2 linked regions of the Homo sapiens genome follow. The protein of the gene in region 2 interacts with the protein of the main gene of each other region in a pairwise test. Each region holds a gene or a part of one and is shown on either strand. Other genes may lie near its edges.

Region 1 (3,500 bases), on a different chromosome or scaffold from region 2:
GCTAGGACTGCCATAATAAAATACCACAGCCTGGGTAGATCAAATAACAGAAATTTGTTTTCTCCCAGCTCTGGAAGCTGGAAGTCCAAGATCAAGATGTGGGCAGGTTTGGTGTGTTCTGAAGCCTCTTTCCTTGGTTTGCCACCTTCTCACTGCGTCTTCACTTGAAGACTTTCCTCTGTGTGAGCACATGCCTGATGTCTCTTCCTCTTTGTATGAGGACACCAGTCAAATTGGATTAAGATCTCACCCAATGGCCTCATTTTAGCTTAATCACCTCTTTAAAGACCCTATCTCCAAATACAGTTGCCTTCTGAGGTCCTGAGGGTCAGGAATTCAGCATATCACTTTTGCAGGGGACATAGTTCAGACCGTAATACTGTATGTGAAAACAAAAGCCTTTTCTGTCCCTTGAGTTTTCTTTGTGTTTGTAGAAGTCAACACACCAAGTAAAGATTTTAGAAAGTCTGGCTTTTCTATCATGAAAGTTACTTAACATTGAAATTATTCTTAAAAAGAAATTAATTCTGAAAAGTGTGACTTCTTAAAAGTTCATTGCTTGGGTTGGGGTGGGGTAGGAGGGCAAGGCCCAGCAAGTGGGTAGGCATGTGATCCGACACTACTGAGAGCCCAACTAGTCTGGGAAGCCGGACACAGGCACAGCAGATTCTGATGCAGGAGATGACTGACCACACTGGGAAACTGCTGCTGAGTCCCTTCCCTTCTTGCGTCTCTCCTGCACCCGAATCAGCTGCCTTTCCTGCCATGCTCCCATCTCCAAGGGAAGAACCAAATGCTGGGAGGCCCAGTCATCAGTCAGCCTCATTCCCACCCAGGCAGATCCACCCACAGCCACTGAGCAAAGCTGTGGCCCCTCAGACTAGCCTCCAGGTCCATCCCTCCTCTGCCAGGCACTCAGCAGCTTGTACCAGCAGGACCCATCCTCACCCTCTGAAGGACAGAGCTAAGCCCTGTCCACTGACAGCTTTGCTCCCCCAGGCCATGCTGAAAGCCTTGCACACACCATTTCATTTAATCTGCTCAGCAACTTCCCATTTAACAGATGGGAAAAACAAATTCCCATCTGAATCTGCCAGGTGGCAGAGCAAGGATTCAGAACCAAATTTGCCTGACCAAGGTCTCATGTTCTCCCTTTTTCATTCTATAAACCCACTGGTAAAGCCCAAAGGACTCCTTTTTTTAAAAAATTTAATTTTAATTTGTTTTTATTTTATTTTATTTTATTTTTAGAGATAAAGGGCTCACTTTGTAGCCCAAGCTAGTCTTAAACTCCTGGGCTCAAGCAGTCCTCCCACCTTGACCACCCAAAGTGTTGGGATTATAGGCATAAGTCACCACTCCCAGTCCCAAAGGGACCCTTTTGTGTCTACGTTTAAATGCATAAAATAAAATACAGAGAATTACAAAGGAAACTAATTTATTAAAATATGTACTTCTTTATTAATGGTTTAAACAACAAGATCTAGCAATGGATCTAAACGTTGCCAGCATGTTGAAAATTGTTGGTGTGTAGTTGTAATATGATGTGAAATATCACGTGAAAACTATGGGTGAAAGAATATCAGATATTATGGTTTGTGGCCTGCATTCATAATCAAAGGAAATGCTACATTTCAGTTAGTGCTTAGTAGAAATAATATGTACTTTTTTTTCATACAAGTTCATGAACCCTTGAATTCTATCCACAGACTCTGGGTGTGAGGATCCAGGCAGGAATGCCTGGTCTGTTAGGATCCGTGCTCTAGGGCCAAGGCCTTCAGTAAGATCTGGCTGTGGCTCTGATGTGGGCTGTCAAGTCCATGAGAGGAGGGAAGCCCTCCTCTCCCAGGGCCTTGGGGCTCTACTTCTCTGGGGAAGTTGGAGGCTGCCAGGAAAGTAAGTTCCAGTCTGCAACACTAGCAAGCCCCTCTGAAATAGGGCTGATTCTTTTGCCCAGATCTCACAGTGCGGTGGGGTGATGCTGGGAGCCCTTCAAGTGGCAAGCACTCGGCTTGTTTGTGTGATACACAGTTCTTTCACTGCATATATATTTAGTAAGAACCCTACTTTGTGCCAGGTATTGGCAAGACCCCATGGAGTCCATAGGCTGGTGGAAAGACAGCCAAGAAGTGGGCCTGGTGTGGCCGGTGGGCCCAGTGTTGGGGCACACGAGCTTGGTCTTTGATCCAGGGGCTGAGTGAGGTGGCAGTATTGGAGTCTGGGGTTTCTCACACACTTCCCTTGAGGCCCCAGCCTGGAGAAGTCCAGACCGTGCCCAGCAGTTGTTCAGCTAGAAGGGAGGAGAGAGGACATGGCAGCCTCCCTCATCTGTGTTACCATTGAGATTGGAAAGGGACAGTTAATCTGGAGGGGAGTGAGAGATGGGGCCAGGGAAAGCAAGCCATGCAAACAAGTTCGCAGAGGAAGAGAGGAAAGAGCACTTAGTTCTGCATCACCCTCTAAAAAGTGAGAGCCCTCACCCGTAGACCCTCTCCCCACTGTCCATCTGAAGTGGCCAGGAAGGAAAGGCAGCACTTCTTTCAATACCTCAGACCCTTTAATAGCATCTTGCTCCCTGAACCTTGTTTTTGCCTGCTAATTTCTGCAATCTGGCCTTGGCTCTGGCCCCAGCCATGACTGTTGCCATTTCTCCCACACTAGCCCTCTGGACCATGAAGTTAACACGCCCTCCCTGGAGCTGTCATCCAGAAGTTAATATACAAGTCAGTTAGTGCACAGACAGTACTAAAACAGCAGCAACAGAGAATTGTAAAATAATTAAGGAGGCCTTTCAGGGTGGCAGCCCCTGAAAGGGTCCCCATTCCACAGTCTGCCCCCTAAGCTGTGCAGGACAGAAGTTCAATTTGATCTCTGTTACGAGAGCCGAACTCATGACAACCATACCCATAAGAGGTTCCTGTTAGTTGACCAGAATATCCACCCTTTCCTAGATATTAGGATCACAGAATGACAGAAAGTTAATCGGTGAACGTGGAGTCAGACAAAATAGTCTTGAGGGATTTTTCATCAACCAAGCACGTGGATGCACTGTTCCCACAGCCCATCTCTTGGGCCCACCGGGCAGACCAGGCTATCCCCCTTCCTTGGTAAGCCTTTCCCAACTCTGATCATACCATTGATTTGGCTCCAGCATCTTTCGCAGTAGTCAGGCCTGAATCAGATCCCTTTCGTTCCTGCTGGTCCTAGGAGACGTCTGACTCCAAGGCCTCTGAATGTGCCGCTGGAGATGCCCCTTGATGGAGGACCCCCTAACACAGGCACCCAGTCCTGCTCACAATGCCCATGTGGCCCTATGGGTGACTAATTGATGTCATGCCAGAAAGAGCAATTTAAGAAACAGACTTTAAAAGAATCCTTGCCTGAGACAGTCTCTTACTGAAAACAGATTCCAGCCTAGTTAACAGGTGAGCTGTGGCACTAATTCGCCTGCCTGAAAGTGTTTATCAGACCATTAAAAGGGCAGTGAGTGAGTGAGGCAG
Region 2 (3,500 bases):
GAACCTCTACTCACAATGTTTCTGATGCATAAAAATATATAAGATTGCAAACAAGTCAATTATACTAAAATTAAATTATCAGTATATTTTCAAAAGCTCATTTTGAAAAGGTGTTCCTTTATTAAGAACTCCTGCAACACTTATTTCATCTAATGCTAATATTCAATTTTTGCTAAGTGTATTTTTTTAAACATTCTTACAGTTGGTGTGAACTGGGATCCAAACTAAGTCGATATATTGCACTTAAGCTAACATGTTTTAAGTCTCTGACACTGTTCTCTTTCCCCACTCTATGTCATTTATTTAAGAAGCTGGCTTCACTTGTCCTGTAGCATTTCCCACATCGTGAATTTGGCTAGTGTATATTTTCATGGTGTTCCTCTATCCCCCCTATCTCCTATAAACTGGTAATTATTTCTAGAGGCTTTACTTTTTCTAGGTTGTTTTGTCATTGTTGCAAGAATAATTCGTTAAGTATTCTTGTGTACTTGTTATTGCCATTTATTAGGAGGCACATTATGTCTGCCTGAACCATTTTCTGTGATGTTAAGACTGAATGGTAGATTTGTAGCACTGAACTGATTTATCCATTATTATAAAGTTCCCCCATCAAACCTCTACCCAATGGTTTTACCTGCCACTGATGATCACTGCCTAGATCAACTATTTCAATAATGATGATGTGCTAGCTCTACCTGCTTTCAGAAACTGTGATTATTCTCAAAGGAAAATTTTGCTTATTGTTCTATTACCCTAAAACATAAAACCTTACAGAAAAGGTAGAATATATACTTCTGTGTGGTTATGACACCAACTGGACGTAGAGTTAGGCTCACTTGTTTTCATTTTTTGAAGATCACTTTATTTTCCCTTTTTAAAATGTAATTGTTTCATAATTATGTAAAACATTTGGATGGTTCTAAAAGCTAAACTATCAAGCAAGGTAGATGTTTAAATATCAAACATGTTTGAACATTATGTTTAATATTGTTTATATGAATGTTTAAACATTAAATATGCTTAAATATCAAACATATTTAAAACATTTAGAGAGGTCTTCTTCCATACCTTCTCTTTTCTCTCCCCTCTCCCATCCACCCCACTGGACAGCCATTTATTTATTTATTTATTTATTTATTTATTTATTTGAGACGGAGTCTCGCACTGCACTGTCACCCAGGCTGGAGTGCAGTGGAGCGACCCTGGCTCACTGCAACCTCCGCCTCCCAGGTTCATGGCATTCTCCTGCCTCAGCCTCCGAGTAGCCGGGACTACAGGTGCCCGCCACCATGCCCGGCTAATTTTTTTGTATTTTTAGTGGAGACGGGGTTTCACTGTGTTAGCCAGGATGGTTTCGATCTCCTGACCTCGTGATCCGCCTGCCTCGGCCTCCCAAAGTGCTGGGATTACAGGCGTGAGCCACCGCGCCCGGCCTGGACAGCTATTTATTTGTTTTGGTTTATGTTTCTATTTTTTTTTAAATAATTTAAGGAAAGTATTCAAGAAAAATATATAAGAAAATTGAAAATTCTAATTTTTATCTACCCCCACAACAAAACATACACACACACATGCACACAGGCGCGCACACACACACACACATACACATAGGCATAGACTATATTGCCTGAATCTTTTCATTTTCAGTTTAACAATCTATCCTTAAGATCATTCCACAGCAGCACATGAGACTTCCTTTACTAATACATCTACTACTTCTAACAATTGCAGAGTGCGTCATCATTATGTAAGTAGCACTTTCTTCAACTAGACCTTACTGATGGTCAATGGGTTGTTTGTAATTTTCTGGGATTAAATAGTGCTGCAATGAACAGCCTCATACATGTGTCATTTTGATTTTCTGTTAGTGTACCTTTGGGTTAGAATCATAGAAGAATGCTGAGTTACAGCTAAAGTTTGTATAATTTTGTGAGATACTGCTAAATTCTGTATTCATAAACTATTTTTAAAAACTCCTAACAATATATCAGTGATTATTTCCCCACAGCCTTGCCAACAAACTATGTTGTCAATCTTTTGGATTTTTGCCAATCTAATAGGGGAGAAATAGTATTTCAGAGTTGTAATTTGTATTTCTCTTATTACAGTGATTTCTTTTCCCATATTTAAGGGACATTTACATTTGTTTTTCTGTGTAAAGTGCTTGTTCATATCTTTTCCCCATATCCTAGAATAATGACTCCAACTCCATCAAGTTCCTTACCTGAAAAGGCTCCACATGGCCAGAATTTACCGTTTGTTCCAGCCAAAACCTGGTGATAGGCAGATGGTCACCTGAACCCCCATTTAGAGCAGTTACCTTAGAAAGCTTGAAATTATAAATCCTTTCTCTGTCCCTTTGTGACTTAAATCTTCTACCATCAAGAACTATCTTCCCAAGGACCTGAGAACTACCTCTTTGGAATGCAAACAATCAAAAAGATAACTTTCACTTTTGTTCCCAGTCCCTGGCGAGAGGGTAAGGGCCAAACATTGGTGGGCCTAATTTGTACCACCACCTCCTGTCATAAATAATAAGTTTGTTTCTCTTCCAGATAAATGCCAATAACAAACCCAGATGGCCTACTCACATGGACCACCTATTGCCCTTAAAAACCACTCAGTGGCCGGGCGCGGTGGCTCACGCCTGTAATCCCAGCACTTTGGGAGGCCGAGGCAGGCAGATCACGAGGTCAGGAAACTAAGACCATCCTGGCCAACATGGTGAAACCCCGTCTCTACTAAAATACAATAAAATTAGCTGGGCGTGGTGGTGCGTGCCTGTAGTCCCAGCTACTCAGGAGACTGAGGCAGGGGAATTGCTTGAGTCTGGGAGGCGGAGACTGCAGTGAGCTGAGATCACGCCACTGCACTCCAGCCTGGTGACAGAGACAGACTCCGTCTCAAAACAAAACAAAAAAACCATCTTTCTTTCCCTTAGCAGTGTCTTTCCCTTAGCATACTCAACCTTTAAAAAAGTCTCTTCCCCTTTTGTTTTGGCAAAAGTGAGTTGAGTTCACACTGGACACTCTTCCCTACTGCAATAGTTACTGAATAAAATCTGTCCTTACCATTTTAACTAGTGTCCAGTTTATCTTCGACATCTATAATTCTAGTTATGGACCAACACAAGTACTGGGCTCTCCCAAATTGGACATGCATAGAATATCCAAAGAAGCATCACAAAGGCACTAAGAAATGAAGTACAATATAAACACCACTCAAGCCCCACACATCCCTGCATAAAGCAAAGATGCAAATACCACAGCAAAAGTTTAGAAAATGAAACCAATATTGGAACTACTGCCCACAGTTCCTCCGCTTCCTAGATCCTATGTCTTACTTTTTCTTGCTTTACCCTTCATTTTGCTGGAGCACGTCCTCTAGTTGTTTCCTGAGTTAAAAATATATTGGAATTAAATTTTTTAGAATGCATATCTGAAAGTGATTTTGTTCTCTCATACATGACTGGTAGTTTGGCTATCTATATACAGGGGAGT

Evidence for each region.
Region 1: the proteins of NCK1 (region 2) and WIPF1 interact in binary tests that used the Homo sapiens proteins (3 or more experiments, as listed by UniProt).

What each region holds. Positions count from the first base shown.
Region 1 is NC_000002.12:174,587,805-174,591,304, reverse strand, and holds part of WIPF1 (WAS/WASL-interacting protein family member 1), read left to right. Parts: intron 1-3,500. UniProt on the Homo sapiens protein: Plays a role in the reorganization of the actin cytoskeleton. Contributes with NCK1 and GRB2 in the recruitment and activation of WASL.
Region 2 is NC_000003.12:136,921,208-136,924,707, reverse strand, and holds part of NCK1 (SH2/SH3 adapter protein NCK1), read right to left. Parts: intron 1-3,500. UniProt on the Homo sapiens protein: Adapter protein which associates with tyrosine-phosphorylated growth factor receptors, such as KDR and PDGFRB, or their cellular substrates. Maintains low levels of EIF2S1 phosphorylation by promoting its dephosphorylation by PP1.